Homo sapiens: one gene and its partners. The protein of the gene in region 2 interacts with the protein of the main gene of each other region in a pairwise test. Each region holds a gene or a part of one and is shown on either strand. Other genes may lie near its edges.

Region 1 (3,500 bases), on a different chromosome or scaffold from region 2:
TTAAGACCATGGTGAAACCCCGTCTCTACTAAAAATACAAAAAAAAAAATTAGTCGGGTGTGGGGGCGGGTGCCTGCAGTCCCAGCTACTTGGGATGCTGAGGCAGGAGAACGGCGTGAACCTGGAAGGCAGAGCTTGCAGTGAGCAGAGATCGCGCCACTGCACTCCAGCCTGGGCGACAGAGCGAGACTCCATCTCAAAAAACAACAACAACAAGAACAACAACAACAAAGTCAAATAACTGAGTTGCAATTTTAAAATTAGTATGTACAAGCAAAACAGCCTCTTTATCTACCTACTGTGAATTATATGCTATTTATTGAATTATAATGTTATTTTTGATACTGTAAAACTGCAGTGATAGGATTTCTGGATGATTACTCCTCTGGAAGAACTTGTAGTAAGTCATCAAAGAGATCTGGAGAAATGAACAGGGCTGTTCAGAAAGTTCTGGTCATCACTGTTTTGCAATAAAAGCAGAAACTGGAGGCGCCTCAGACATGAAACAAGAAATTAGTCAGCAATGCAAAATATAAAGAGATGAGGAATCTCTAGTTCCTTGGAAAGAGCTGATGTGATGCAGACAAACTTCTGAAAAAGGTGATATCTTCTATTATAAGAACATGGCCACAATGAATGTCTTAGGCCAGATGTTAGTAACACGTGTAGACAGTGAGCGCTTTAGCTAAGGGTGGAGCTGATACTGATAACAGGCTAATAAATACATTTCAGGATTCGAAAAACAAGTCAGGGTAAATATTAGATTTCCAAGAGTCCAAAGCCAGAAGGCTTCACAGAAAGGAAAAGGCAGTTGCTAGACAATGCAGGATATATTAAAGTGCAGAATGTTTAAGGGTTATAGAGGAAATAGTTCTTCATCCTAGAAAACAAATTCCTGGGTAGGATTTGTGGGACCAAAGTAAGGAAGCCAGAGATCGAAGAAAAGCCTGTGGCTAAAAGGTAACCTTAGGTGTGAATAAGAAGCAGGAATGAAGAGAATACAGACCTGGAAACAATGCCAAACCTAAATCTGACTCATGTTAGACCTGTAAGTAAGTTACCTAGCATTTCTCTAGAATTTCCGCATCCAGGTTTTAATATGGAGAAAACGGAATGAGGGGCATACTCTATAAGCCAAAGGCTGGCTAAAATCACCTTTGTTAAAGAATCAATATTCTGAATATGCATTTAAAAATGTATTTTCTTAGTTTGAGCTCTTTTTGAAAAAATTAAGGACGGTAAGAATTTCTGTACACACAGTCATGATATAGAAGGAAATTCAGACAATTTATGACTATGGTAGGTGGATAATGAGTCCTAACACCTTAGAAATATCTGAAGAAAGTGATGGAGACATAAGAGGGAAAGTCAGACAGGATTTTATAAACCAATTATTTCTTTGAGACATGGTTTCACTCTGTTGTCTGCCACCTTGACTGCTAGGGCCCAAGCAATCTTCCCACCTCAGCCTCCCGAGTAGCTGGGACTACAGGCATGTGCCATCACAGTCAGCTAATGTTTTCTATTTTTTTGTACAGATAGGACTCACTATGTTGCTCAGGCCAATCTCCTGGGAGATCCTCCCACCTCAGCCTCCCATAGTGCTAGGATTACAGGTGTGAGACACCACACCTGGACAAACCAATTCTTCCTTCCTATTTGGAATTTTGCCAATAGCATATAAACAGGAGGATGCTGGAATATAAACCAAAGATCTTGATAAATTATAACACTGAAAAACTCTTCCTTCAGTTAGTCATTCATAAAATGAATTGGTCAACAGAACCACTCAGGGACTTTTTAAAAAATGTAGAGCCCCAGGACTCCCATTCCTTGAGATTCTTTGGGTAGGGGCCAGGAATCCATATTCTTAAACATAGTAATATTAAAACAAATAAAAAATCTCCCTCAGGTGCCAGTAGCGTTTAGAAAAATGTTAGTAGGAAACTTAATCAAAAATTGTTATTCAAGAGAGAACCCCAAAACATTCAAAGCCAACAAATAAGCTGCCATTGCAATGGCATACTGGCATATGGCAGACTGAGATTCTATACCTGGAAGAATCTGATTTCTGGACAAACACTAGGGTTAATGCTGATTCAACTAAGCACTGATAGAATTCCAAATGGCCACTCCATTCAGGACCTTAACTAAATTTTGTACAACATCTATAATGGGATTCTTATCTAAGCCAAGATCAGAGGTAGAAAAGTTTATGGCATAAAGGACACTGAAGAGCATTTACGGCAATTATGAGCAGTACTCTACAATTTACCACATTCATATTTTCCAATTTATTTTTCACCTTTTTTTTTTTTTAACGTCTGGGGTTTTTTTTTTCCTCCATCAATCATTAGCCATGGGCAGGGTCTTACTGATGACATAAAGCACTGAAAAGATTGGCTACCCTTACTCTAAATCTTTGCTTTTGAAATCTATTTCAGAAATCATTTCTCATTTTCATTTCGAATTATATTAAGAACTGACAGCCTCTCTTTTTAAAGAGAGGTCCTTATCAAATCATGGTCCTATTAAGAATTTTCAATGGTTCCCCCATTACCTATAGAACTAAAAAAAAAACCCTCATACTTACTGGCCTGGCATTTAAAGCCCTCTGTGTATCACCCTCATCTACCTTTTAAATTGTTTTGCTGACTATTCTTGAATGTGAAATACTCTACTCTGGCTAGATTAGTCTACTACCTCTCCTTTAAAAATACCATTTTCATTCCTATCTCTCTGACTTTGTTCCTTCCTAAAAATATCTTCTTGTATCCTCTCTGCCAAACCATTTCTAAGGCTCAGCTCAAATCCTGTATCTCCTTATGAGGCTTTCTCTAATCACTGTAGTCCTCAGAGCTCTTCCACTCTTTTGGTTCCCTATGTCTGTATCATTGTCACATACTATCTTCTGTTGTTCGATTTATGTGTAATTGTTCTCTCTTCCTAACAGACTTTATGCTGTGCTAACTCCCAATATACTCTCACAGAGATATGTATGCAGTAGGAATTCAATAAATTTTTTTTTGTTTTATGTGAGAAGAAATACCGACAATTTTAGAAGAGCTTTCTCTTTCCTCTCGGCTTTAAAATCAAGGGGGAAAGGGCGCAGGGAGCAAAGTGGATCAGCTGAGGGTCTACTACTCTCGTATTTCAGGAGAAAAGAGGTCCCTAAGGAACTTAATAATTCCAAAGTATTGGCCAGTATTTTCTTACTAAAAGATTTCTAGAAATGTCTTTCTGGGTCTAAGACTAGGATCAAGAAAAACAGGGACTGAGTAAAACAGGACCTTAAAACTAGACTCAAAGGCTCTCTATTTTCTCTAGCCTTTTGGAAAATTTCTTTCCCACCATTAAATGTCTCCTAAAAAATCTATTTCCATGAAGAGTCTATCGCTGCTCAGCCTTTTAACTAAAATCAAGTGTAGTCCATGAAGGAATTCTGTATTAATCAGAAGAGCTGGAAACCTCCATACATCCTAAAAACACTGATTATGGTG
Region 2 (5,206 bases):
CTGGGCCTCAGACAGAGCCCAGGACATGGTGTTGGCAGACACAGGGTCTCTGCGGCCCTCGATGCCCCTCCAGTCCCCCAGCTGTCCTGCTCCAGGTGTCCTGAGGGGATGCCCTGAGGGCAGGGGCTTGTGCCCATTTCACTGTCATCCCTGCTGCATCCCAAGGACTAGAATAGTGCCTGGCATACAGCAGGCGTCAAGTAAAGACAGATTGGGCTGGGCGCAGTGGCTCACGCCTGTAATCCCAGCACTTTGGGAGGCTGAGGCAGGTGGCTCATGAGGTCAGGAAATCAAGACCATCCTGGCTAACATGGTGAAACCCCGTCTCTACTAAAAATACAAAAAATTAGCCAGGTGTGGTGGCATGCGCCTGTAGTCCCAGCTACTCGGGAGGCTGAGGCAGGAGAATCGCTTGAACCCGGGAGGCGGAGGTTGCAATGAGCCAAGATTGTGCTACTGCACTCCAGCCTGGGCGACACAGCGAGACTTTGTCTCAAAAAAAAAAAAAACAAAACAGATCAAAAACCTGGCCAAGCCCTGCCACCCTGCATGCAGGGTAGAAGTGAGTGGGTGCCCACAGGCCATCTCTGTCCCTCCAGGCATGTTCTGCCCAAAGAGAGTAAGATGCAAACTCCGGGAAACCTGCAGGTTTACTGGACATTAAACCTCTCTCTAAAATCAGAAGGGGCCCGGAGCGGTGGCTCACGCCTATAATCTCAGCACTTTGGGAGGCCAAGGCAGGCAGATCACGAAGTCAGGAGTTCAATACCAGCCTGGCCAACATGGTGAAACCCCGTCTCTACTAAAAAATACAAAAAAAATTAGCTGGGCATGGTGGCGGGTGCCTGTACTCCCAGCTACTCGGGAGGCTGAGGCAGGAGAACTGCTTGAACCCAGGAGGCGGAGGTTGCAGTGAGCCGAGATTGTGCCACTGCACTCCAGCCTGGGCAACAGCGCGAGACTCCATCTCAAAAAAAAAAAAAGAGCAGCCGGTACCAGCCGTTCTCCCTCGAAGCTGTCCCTGGGTAGCGCTGAGACAGGCCCCCTTTAGAAAGTGGGTGCCATCTGCCCTGTCCCTGTCCCAACAGGCAGCCGCCCCTTCCAGCTGCCTGGGGCCAGCACTTACCTGAAGTAGTCGCTGCAGGCAGCCAGGACGACCTTGTGTGCAGGAAAGGCCTCTCTGTTAATAGTCAGCACAACATCGAGGAGCTGGCCCTGAGCGCGGAGGGTGGCCAGGCCCTGCAGGAGGCTGGTGCTGTGGCTGGGTGCCGAGAAGGTGCACTTGAGGGCCCCGTTCTTGTCGGCCGTGCTGCGGGGAAAGCAGAGGTGGGGACATGGCCCAGAGGTTCACACACACACTATTACCTTGAACACAACACTCAGTGCAAGAAGCCAGACACAAAAGGCCGCACTGTGTATGACTCCACTGACGTGAAATGCCCAGAACAGGCAAATCCGCAGAGACAGGAAGCAGATGGGTGCCACCAAGGGCTGGGGGAGGGGAGGGGGGAGTGACTGCTGATGGGGTGGGGTCTCCTTTTGGAGGGATGAGAATGTTCTGGAACTAGACAGAGGTGGTGTTTGCATACCACTGTGAATCTACTAAATGCCACTGAATTGTCCACTTTCAGACAGTTTTATGTCACGTGAATTTCACTTCAATAAAAAAACCAAAGGACACACGGGAGCCTTCTCAAGTCCCCTGCAAGCCCCGCCACAGCCCCCTGCACCCCAGAGTATACGAGCCCTCTGTGGTCCAGCCCCCACTGCCCCTACTGCCCCCTCATCCCCTCTTCTCCAGCCCCACCACCCCTTTGCTATTTCATTTGGGGAAACTGTTGAACGGATCAATGAATTAATAGCTTAGGAGCCGTTAACACACCACTTCTTCCTCAGAACACAACAGGGGGTGGACCCTGGTGCCACCTCCAGGATCAGTCCCCTCTAAGACCCCCACCCCCACCGGGCTGAGGCACCCTGCTCTGTCCTGGTGGCCTCTGCCCTCTGGAATTTGCTCTCCCATTCCTGGGACCCACGCCTGCCTGTAAGCAAAGGCCAGGAATGCGGGCACTGATCTTTCCAAGAAAGCGGGAGGAGACGGAAGGCTCCTTGGCCCCACTGCCAGCCAGCCCCAAAACCACAGTGGGCATTAAAGAGCCAACGTCAAACACAGGGCACACAGTGGGCACTCAGTCAACATAGCAGCTGCCACCGGAGGTCCCTGACCTCCCCTTCAGACCACCCTTCCAGAGACCCTTGGGAAAGGGTGAGTGATCAAGACAAACTGCCGGGGAGAGGGGCTTCAGGGCCAGGCGCTGACCACAGCCCTGCAAGGCACCACAGGCAGAGAAGTTGCCCAAGCCCCAGCCCTGCCTGCGAGGCACTGCATGTCCTAGAGGGTGGGGACATAGCACGAAGGACCCAGTGTGGGGCCTGTGCTCAGTGGAAAGCCTTTGAGTCCCTGGGGAAGCAGGACATATGCTACTCAGAGCCCAATGCCACGGTCATCTGGGCTGGCCAGCAATGCTGCGGTGCTGGGGGTGCTGGAGCCCAGACCTGGTGTTTGCCTGGGAGGGTGGGGGTGCAGCCTTTTGAAAGCTGAGGAGGGCAGGGAAGGAAAGGGGTCCAGGTGCACCCTGAGACTCTGGCTTGTCCCCGTGGCCTTTCCCCTGCCAAGTGGAAGGGACGCTTACCTCCCCTCCTCCCTTCCTCCCCTCCCCACACATCGGCCCCGATCCCACTTGACCAGGCTGCTGCCCTGAGCCAAGCCTTGGCTCTTTTTTCCCTAGACCCATGACAGATCCAGATCCGAGGCTTGTGAGGAGCATGTCGCAGGCTCATGGGCCGCTCTCCCCTATCCAGCCCCCCACAGGGGTCCAGCACCTGCCTGGACATCTCCAGGGCAGGGTCTCATTGCTTCCCACGAATGGCATGCCCTCTCACCGACACCCTGCGACGGGTGTCCAGGCTGCCTGGGGCCAAAGCCGCATCCTGCATGTGCCTCTGAGGACCCTCAAGGTCTCTCCTTGTCCCCAGTTTGCCTCACTGGCTTTGCAAACTCCTCTTCCCTGCCCGTGCATGCAGGGATGCTGCGTAAATGAGACGAAGTAGGCCCCGTCCTCATGGGCACGCGGTCCAGGCAATGGGGACCAAAAGGGGTCAGATCACCCAGAATCAGCTTTGTGTTGCAGCTGTGGCAAGGGTTGTGCATTCGGGCTCTGGGTGACCCCTGCCGGCCTTTCTGTGGACACTTTGTCTCCCAGAAGTATGCATGGGCCTTGCCAGCCTTTGCCATTTTGATTTTGGTCTGGTTTTTCCTTAGAAGTTCAAGGAGATTTGCGGGGAGGGATGGGAGGACTTCTCGTGCCTCCTGTAAAGCCCTTGGAGGCAGGTGTGCATGTGTACATTTTCATCAGAAGAAACACGTTGCACTGGGACAAGTTCACCACGGGGCCACTCAGTCCTTAGGAGCATATTTACCATGCTCTTCCATATATAAAGAGCATCAAGAAATCAATACAAATTAGCCAGGCATGCTGGCATGAGCCTGTGTTCCCAGCTACTTGGGAGGCTGAGGTGAGAGGATCACTTGAGTTCGGGAGGTGGAGGCTGCAGTGAGCCATATTTGTGCCACTGCACTCCAGCCTGGGTGACAGAGTGAGATCGAAAGATGCACAAAGAATGTGGGCTAATGGTTCCCAGGAAAGCAAGCAGAGCTGGCTAGAAGGACGTAAGAGTCAGCCTCGCTTGCAGTCAGGGAAGCACACTCTCGGGGGGCTTATGAAGCAAGGTGACCCCCAGGAAGGCAGCTGCGTAGACTCAGCAACACTCTAAAGGCTCATGTCCTTTACCCAAGAACTCTATTTCTGAAACTTACCCAAATACAATCTCTAGGGGCCACAGACGAGAAATAAGCTAACCACCCTTAAAGGAGATTCGTGGAATCACAGCACCTTCTGAGTGAGGGCTGCCCTATAGATGGGTGAGGAGGCTGACGCATCCTGGGGAAGATGTTGCATGCAGGGGATGACGTCAAGGCTGCAGGAGGAAGGAAGAGGCAGAGTGCACACAGTGGGATGCTATTTGGGCTCAAAGTGCCACACATATGCATCTGCCCATGAGTGCACAGAACATATCTGGAGAACTGAGAAGTTGGACAGAGAGGACCTCCCTCTGGGGAGGAGAGGAGCTACTGCCCTGCACCCTGCTACTCTGATGACTGAGGAACAGGAAACCAGGGAGGTGGGCCAGTGTTCCAAACATGGGATCTGTGGGTTCCCCAGCAAGCAGAGAGGGTGCCCGGAACCCAGAAGGCAGGATCAGTTCAGCTGACTGGCAGGGCATCTCAGAGGAGACATCAGGGGCCAGCAGCCTGGGCCAAGCCAGCTCTGGTTAGCTGGGAACTCAGCAGTCACTCAACCACCCAGGCCTCAGCTACAAAGCAGGGGCAAATGACCATCCAGCTCCCCAGCCCCAGGGCCGCTGGAGGATGAGATGAGCAAACGCAGAGCCCTGGGACCCAGGCTGCCACTAGCACGTGACGACTACACACTCGGAGAATCTGGATGCTCCCATCTGGAATTTAGGACACCCCAGGCCCAGAAAGCAGGGTGAGGCCCATCCACTGCTGGTTACAGGGCACAGGGCCCACGCTGGACCAAAGAGGGGAGGAAGCAGCTTGTCCTCCCCAGGCCTCCTCCTCATGCCCTGGTGATGCCTGACGCGTTCCACATGGCTGTTTCCTTCCTCTCATCTTAGGGATGGGACAACTGTCCCTGAGGCCCCTGACGTCACCCTCACTGCCGCCCCTGTGAAGCCAAACCCACCCCACTGCAGCCCCTCCTGGGGAACTCAAGGAGGGAGGAGGCCAGGAGGGGCAGGAGTCCCCCAGCCTGGACGGAGAAGCGAGACGCAGCCTGGGCGGAGGTGGGCAGGCGGAGGAGGGAGGGCCGGGGCCAGGGCTGATGACTAAGGTCCTCTCCAGCCGGCCACTGGGAGGAGGGGAAGGACCCATTACTCAGGCTGGTCCAGACAGGGGGCGGCCGGCACGGCGGGGCCACAGGCCCCCAGGAAGGCGGTGGCCCTGAGCCGGTCCGAGTCTCCAGACGGCCACTCGAGTGACGGTCACCCGCACGTGAGTCATCGGAGCCAATGCGTCAGCAGCCCCGGCCAGGGCCGTCTCAAGAGGCCATTGCTGCCCGCCCTG
Region 3 (3,500 bases), on a different chromosome or scaffold from region 2:
AGTGGCACGATCTTGGCTCACTGCAACCTCTGCCTCCCGGGTTCAAGCGATTCTCCTGCCTCAGCCTCCCAAATAGCTGGGACTACAGGCATGTGCCATCATGCCCGGCTAATTTTTTGTATTTTTAGTAGAGATGGGGTTTCACCATTTTAGCCAGGATGGTCTCGATCTCCTGACCTCGTGATCCGCCCACCTCAGCCTCCCAAAGTGCTGGGATTACAGGTGTCAGCCACTGCGCCTGGCCAACTTTTGCATTTTCAAACATACAAACATAGAATGTGTTTAATGTAAAATTAAATTTTTAAAAAGAACCATGGCCAGGCGCGGTGGCTCACTCCTGTAATCTCAGCACTTTTGGAGGCCAAGGTGGGCGGATCATGAGGTCAGGAGATCAAGATCATCCTGGCTAACATGGTGAAACCCCATCTCTACTAAAAATATAAAAAGTTAGCCGGGCGTGGTGGCATGTACCTGTAGTCTTAGCCACCAGGGAGAAGGCAGGAGAATTGCTTGAACCCGGGAGGCGGAGGTTACAGTGAGCCGAGATTGCGCCACTGCATTCCAGCCTGGGCGATAGAGCGAGACTCCATCTCAAAAAAAAAAAAAAAAAAGAAAGAAAGAAAGAACCAAAAGGGCACTGAAATTATATATGGCAACATGTTAGGGCAACATTGATTAAAAACAAAAAAAAAGAATGTTACATTTTTATCTATTTTTTTGTGTGTACTTGAATAGGATTCATAAAGCATTTTTAAAAGTGTATAATCCTGGGGCCCAACCCCAGAAATGGATTCAATAAGTAGCTCAAAGGTGGGGACCAGGATTCTCATTATCAACAAGGTCCCCAGGTGATTCTGATGCAGGTGATCCATGGACCATACTTGAGACATGCTGTATCAGGGCTGGCGTCTGACCTCAGGCCTGCCACGTGACCTTTGAGCCCCTGGTACAAGAAGTTTGTCAGGATGTCAAGTTCCTTGGATGCTATGCCTCAACCACTTCCACAAGGACCTCTGCTTATATTTGTCCATGCCAAAATGGACCATCCCCGGATATGTACTGTTGAGAACTGCCTTCAAGCCAAGGCCCACCCCTCAGGGGACTGGGGAAAGAAAGAAGAGCAGGCCCAGGTTTGCCTGGGGTGGGGGTAGGGAATCTCGAGCCCAGACAGCCCAACCCACTACCCTGGCCCTTGATCCCACCTGTTCCCGGGCAGCACTGAACATGGGCTCCTGGATGTCCGTGTACATGCGGCGGAGGGCATTATACCCTCCAGGGATGCTCTCAAGGTTGCTCAGGGCCCGGTCCTGGTTCCGCATCATCTCTTGCATCATGGCTGGATTCCGAGCAAGCTCCATTGTCTGATCAAGGGAGAGAGACAAAATGGGCCCCGGAACCAGGGGAGCACCAACCTAGGAAAAGGGTGGGCCTTGAGGAAGGGGGGTCTGTATCAGGATCAGGACCAGGGCCCAGGAACTGCCCCACAGTGACAGGGAGTAGAGTAAACTGGACTTCCTTCCTCTACTGTAATCTTGGCTCCAAGCCCGCCTCCCTGTGGGTATTTTGGTTGGCTTTTTCTAGTGGAGGACAATGATCCCAGCTGAAGTGAGGGCAGCAGCTTCCCTCCCTTAGGCTCAGAGTGTCCAAAGAAGTGTCAGGGTGCACAAGGAAACTGAGTCAGAAGAGACACAGAAAGAAAGGGGAGGAGGCAGAAGAGAAAATTAACATCTACTGAGAACCTACTGTATATGGGCACAGGGCCAAGTAGCTTACGGAATTCAAGTCATGTAATCTCCACAATAACCATCTCAGGTGTTTATTTCTGTCCCTATTTTGCAGATGAGCAAATAGGCTCAGAGATGTTAATTGACTTGCTGCCCTGGGACACACAGTCACTGAGTGGTGAAGACAGTGTTCAAAGCCAGGTTGGTTGGTCTGTCCAAGACCATACTGTGATTCCTGGTAAATGACTGCAAGTTGGGGAAGGAAAGCGTTCAAGCTGGAATAAAGCTACTGACACCCTGTAATTCCCACCCCCAAGTCTTTGCTCTGCCTGAACCTTGAGAAACACTGAAGATGGGGGCTTTCTTCTATGGAGCCAATGGCACAATCTCAATAAGGGGTGGCTATGTCAACCCCGGGGGAGTTCATCACAGAAAAATAAGTATAACTACTTGTTCCCATTCAACTTGGAATACCTTCCCTCTCCTTCCCAAATGTGCTCCACACTTGCCTTTTCTAAGACTCCTTTATAACTGATATGCCCAGCTTCCCAGAACTCTGATCTCTTGTTCCGTAATTCATTCATTCAATAAATATTTACTGCATGACTACCACGCACCAGGCACTGTTCTAGACAGTGAACAAAACACTCACAAGTCCTTGACCTTACATAAATTATCTTCTGGTGAGTCCAGCACTGGTGTCCACAGCCCTGCTGGGAAGATCATCTACCTTGGTCCTCTGGTGGAGCGGACCATGAGCTGGAACTCCCAAAGAGCAACATCACAACAGTCTCCCCTGGTTCTCCATTCCCAACTGGGCCCTGCCCAGCCACAGTGCTCCCCAAACAACCTACTATCTTTCACTCCCAGGCCTTTATATTTGCTGTCCCTCAGCCCTGAATGTTCTTCTTTCTTTCCCCCTGGTTCGTCTTCCTCCTTTGGGTCTCAGCTCGGTGACATTTCTTAAGGCCTCCTCTAAGCCTTAGGGTAGGGTCAGGAGCTCTTCTCTATGCTCCTAGAGGATCCCATGATTATCCTTCTGATAGCAATGGCCACATTGTATTCTAATTGCCGGTTTACTTGTCCTACTTCCCTTTGACACCTGGAATTCCTGAAAAGCTAGGCCTGTCTTTTCATCCCTGTACCTCCAGTGTTCAAAACTGCTGAATACACGAATGAACAAATCAATGTAGGACAAAGTAGGAAAGGCTGGGCAGGGCACGGCTGGGCACCAGTGTCCTCCAGCTCTCCAGCCCTCTCATACTCACCTGCCTCATGAGTTCAGGGTTATTGAGCATGTGGCTGATCTCAGGGTTCCGCTCCATCAACTGCTGCATCTGGGGGTTGGCCATAATCATGTGACGCATCAGATCAGGGTTAGACATCATATCCTGGACCAGGGGGTTCTCCATGATCTGTGACAGCATCTCAGGATTGGACATCAGCTGCCGCTGCATCTGCTGCTGCAGCTCCATGAAGTTGGCAGAGCCCAGGCCTAGGCTGCCCAGCCCCAGGATGCCCCCAAAGCCAGCTGTGGGAAGGGGGCAGGGTCACAGTCTGCCACAAGAACAGTGTCCTCACTTAGCCAGAGCCACTGAATTCAGATCTCCAGGACACGCCCCAAATGCTTCTCACATGTCCCTCTTCCTGTCATTCCCACAGCCCGGCCCTGATCCACTGCTGGCAAAAAAATGTGAGCCTACTAGACTGAGGCTGTGCCAAACATAGAACTGAGCAGAGAGAAGGCAACCAGCAATGGTCTGTTGAATGAGTGGC
Region 4 (3,500 bases), on a different chromosome or scaffold from region 2:
CAAACATCTTTTTTTTTTTGTCCTTAACACAAACAAAGATGCCTCTCGACATTTCACTATTTAAAGATTAGGTCCTTCAAACGTTTTTTTGATGTTAGTCTTTTTCCTGTTTTGCTACTAACCTGACCCTTCATGATAAGACAGAATAAAGGACAGTGAAAGTAACTAAAATGCATATTTGGTAGATTTTGTTACTCGCCCTGATACACAGCTTCATGGAAAAATAAGCTGCAGCTAATGAGTAAAACCCAAATTAGAGTAATTCAATAAATGACTACCAAAAGCAAGATGGTATTAATTCAAAAGACATACAGACACGGGCCTTGGTGGTAAGGAACTTAAAGTTGTTAAAAATTAATAGATTTCATTGTTGGTCTGCATATATCCTCTAACTTCAAATAAACACAGATAACTGTTATAAATACATACATATACATATATATAAATATACACATATATGTAGAGAGAGGGAAAACGCCACTGAGATGTTAACTTCCACAAACTGATGCATACCATGTTTATTTCAAAATATCTGTCAAATACTTCTTGAGCAGTAACATTTTCCCATTCCAGAAATGAGGCTGAATAGATTTCAAGGTTCCTTTCAGCTTTACCTTTACAATTAGCTGAAAATATGAGTCCTGATAAATAAAGTACAGTATATTGAGGAGATCAAGAACTAATTCCAAGATTTAATTTCTTATTAGTTACTAAACCTTTCAAGTCTATGTTTAATAAAGGATATCAAACCTGTAAAACCAAATTCATTTCACTTTCAGACCTTTAGTCTTATATCAACATAATAAATTATCTGTTTTCAAGTAAAAGCTCCAGTAAAAGATAGTTATAATTCCTGTCTCAAAGGCTCTTTGAGACTGTTCAATAGACTAAACATTTAATTTTCTCTTGTAGCCTAAAATGATACTTACGTCAAGCACTGATCCAGAGAGATCAGCTCGTTCAAGATTTGCACAGCAAAGATTTGCATGTGCAAGATTACAGCGGCTTAAATTGGCCATTTTGAAGTTAATGTATCGAAGGTCCAAACGAGAAAGATCAGCACCACTGAAGTTCAAACCCTGAAATAAAAAAGCACAAATTGTCACCATAACTAAATCGTCTGTTTGTATTAAATTTAATTACTATAGCTAACCACCAAGTTTTTTTTAGAAGCAATTGGCAGTTCAGTCACTTGGAGTTTATTACAGAACATGATAAAATGGAACTTAGATACATAAAAGAAGTGTCCTTAAATAGGTTCCTCATAAAAGAAACTCTATCAATATATACATTAGAATATAGCCCGGCTATAATTCATTTCTGTGTAGAAGCTTCTAAAGAGGGATCCCTGTTAGTCCTATACCTGCTAATAAGTATTTAAACCTAATTATATTTAAATTATTTTATTAATTCAGTAATTCAAAACAGTTTATTAGGCAAAAATGAGTACTGTGGTCTTTACAATTTGAAATGCTATAGTACACATAAGTAAAGTACCTGCCACTGATCAGCCCATATATTGCAAATGTACAAATACTGACTTTTAAAAAACTGCTGCAATTTCTATGCATTATTCATAAACTGTTGCATGAGGTATAATTAGACAATTTAAAAAGGCTATTATTGCATCTCTTTTTCGTTAACCATTTCAGAACTAAATCAATGCTATGACTCATAATTAAATTAGATCTTGCATGTAAAAGAAAAACAAAGCAAGATAATCCCAAAACACTAGAAGAATGTAAAATTTTATTCATAGATTTGCTGATAGAAATAATTGATGTAAAAGCCTGCTAATTACCTGGCATCGCAGTTCTGACTTGGTTGGAGTTGCTAGCAAAAATCGGACAAATTCCTTTCGGGATATTGGTGAATGATCCTCCGGTGGTTGAGAATTCTTAAAAAAGACATTAAGAAATTAGTGGAGTCTTTTGGGAGATAGCTACAATGAATGTAACACTGGCTAATGTAAAAACAGGCTTACCTTTATTGCCACTTCTAGGTGTTCAATCAATGAGTCAATACCAAAAAATCTTGCTTCTTCTAACACACCTATCAGAACAAAAATAATTCTGAAACAACCTAATTTAGTGAATGTATTACATTCATTTTGAATTTACTAAAATACGATTAGTTCACATAATCTTAACATTTAATTGCCTTTTTAAATGGAGCAGATCTGAACAGGTTTGCCACAAGTATCTTTTACATACTGAATCAGAAAATGATAGAAATGAATAAAAGTTTAAAAAGTACAAAAAAGTCAAAAGTATAATTCAGAAATCTGTCTTATAGGAGAATAAATTTTAAAATATTTGTAAATACTAAAAGAGCTTTCATTTATCATTTACTTTAACTTGGTAAAAAAAAATGTACATCCTTTACATGACTTGGTATATTTACTTATTCTAATCTGTTAATAAACATCATCAGAATGTGTGGGAATACATTTGGGTTCCATTATCTTTCAAATGAGAAGACCTCAATCAGTTGGCTGTTGACTCAGTAAAAAACTACTTAGAACTCTGGAATTACAAAGAAAGTATCAGACATAATCCCTCCCTTCAAACACTTACAAGCTAATAAGGGTAAGTAGATACAGAAAACCAGAAGCAGTTATTTGGGAAGAATAATACAATCTTTTCTGTGAAGACCAAACTCTATGGTCAACAATCCAATTGTAAAACAAACGTCATCCAAGGTACAGCATCGGGCTACCACTCTGGCATACAGGGTCCACATTTCCCCTTCAAGAGGCATCCAAAGATTATGCCATTCCGTTCGGATATATATCCCTGGTGGAAACTCAACATATTATAAAAGAGGTTCTTGTGGGCCACGCTCTCAATTTGCCAAGGTCTAAGTAAAGCAGAACTCTTAGGGAATGCAGCCAGGATACGTTTCCAATTCTAGGTTTAGAATTAAACCTTTAAAACATCCAGAGAAGCCATAGAAATACAAAAGACAGGCCGGGCTCACACCTGTAATCCCAGCACTTTGGGAGGCTGAGGTGGGTAGATCACTTGAGGTCAGGAGTTCGAGACCAGCCTGGCCAACACATGGTGAAACCCTGTCTCTACTAAAAATACAAAAAATTAGCCAGGCGTGGTGGCAGGTGCCTGTAGTCCCAGCTACTCGGGAAGCTGAGGCAGGAGAATGGCGTGAATCCAGGAGGCGGACCTTACAGTGAGCCGAGATCGCGCCACTGCACTCCAGCCTGGGTGACACAGCAAGACTCCATCTCAAAACAAAAAAAATACAAATATTAGCTGGGCATCATGGTGTGTGCCTGTAATCCCATCTACTTGGGAAGTTGAGGCAGGAGAATCACTTGAACCCAGGAGGCATAGGTTGCAGTGAGCAGAGATCACACCATTGCACTCCAGCCTGGGTGACAGAGCGAGACCCTGTCTCAAAAAAAAAAAAAAAAAAAAAAAAAAAAAAAAAATCTGGATTTGAATCCCAGCTCTGCCACTCACTACTTTTTGGTGTTAGTGAAA

What was found.
Region 1: the proteins of KLHL26 (region 2) and ACIN1 interact in a two-hybrid assay, tested with the Homo sapiens proteins (one large-scale study listed by IntAct).
Region 3: the proteins of KLHL26 (region 2) and UBQLN4 interact in a two-hybrid assay, tested with the Homo sapiens proteins (one large-scale study listed by BioGRID and IntAct).
Region 4: the proteins of KLHL26 (region 2) and KCTD9 interact in binary tests that used the Homo sapiens proteins (3 or more experiments, as listed by UniProt).

The regions. Positions count from the first base shown.
Region 1 is NC_000014.9:23,085,137-23,088,636, forward strand, and holds part of ACIN1 (apoptotic chromatin condensation inducer in the nucleus), read right to left. Parts: intron 1-3,500.
Region 2 is NC_000019.10:18,660,364-18,665,569, reverse strand, and holds part of KLHL26 (kelch-like protein 26), read right to left. Parts: intron 1,310-5,206; coding exon 1,127-1,309; intron 1-1,126. UniProt on the Homo sapiens protein: May play a role in endo(sarco)plasmic reticulum (ER/SR) mitochondrial signaling. May be part of the ubiquitin-proteasome system (UPS) and affect ubiquitination and degradation of target substrates in cardiomyocytes.
Region 3 is NC_000001.11:156,047,299-156,050,798, forward strand, and holds part of UBQLN4 (ubiquilin-4), read right to left. Parts: intron 3,256-3,500; coding exon 2,993-3,255; intron 1,362-2,992; coding exon 1,203-1,361; intron 1-1,202. UniProt on the Homo sapiens protein: Regulator of protein degradation that mediates the proteasomal targeting of misfolded, mislocalized or accumulated proteins.
Region 4 is NC_000008.11:25,434,434-25,437,933, forward strand, and holds part of KCTD9 (BTB/POZ domain-containing protein KCTD9), read right to left. Parts: intron 2,053-3,500; coding exon 1,985-2,052; intron 1,898-1,984; coding exon 1,802-1,897; intron 1,080-1,801; coding exon 930-1,079; intron 1-929. UniProt on the Homo sapiens protein: Substrate-specific adapter of a BCR (BTB-CUL3-RBX1) E3 ubiquitin-protein ligase complex, which mediates the ubiquitination of target proteins, leading to their degradation by the proteasome.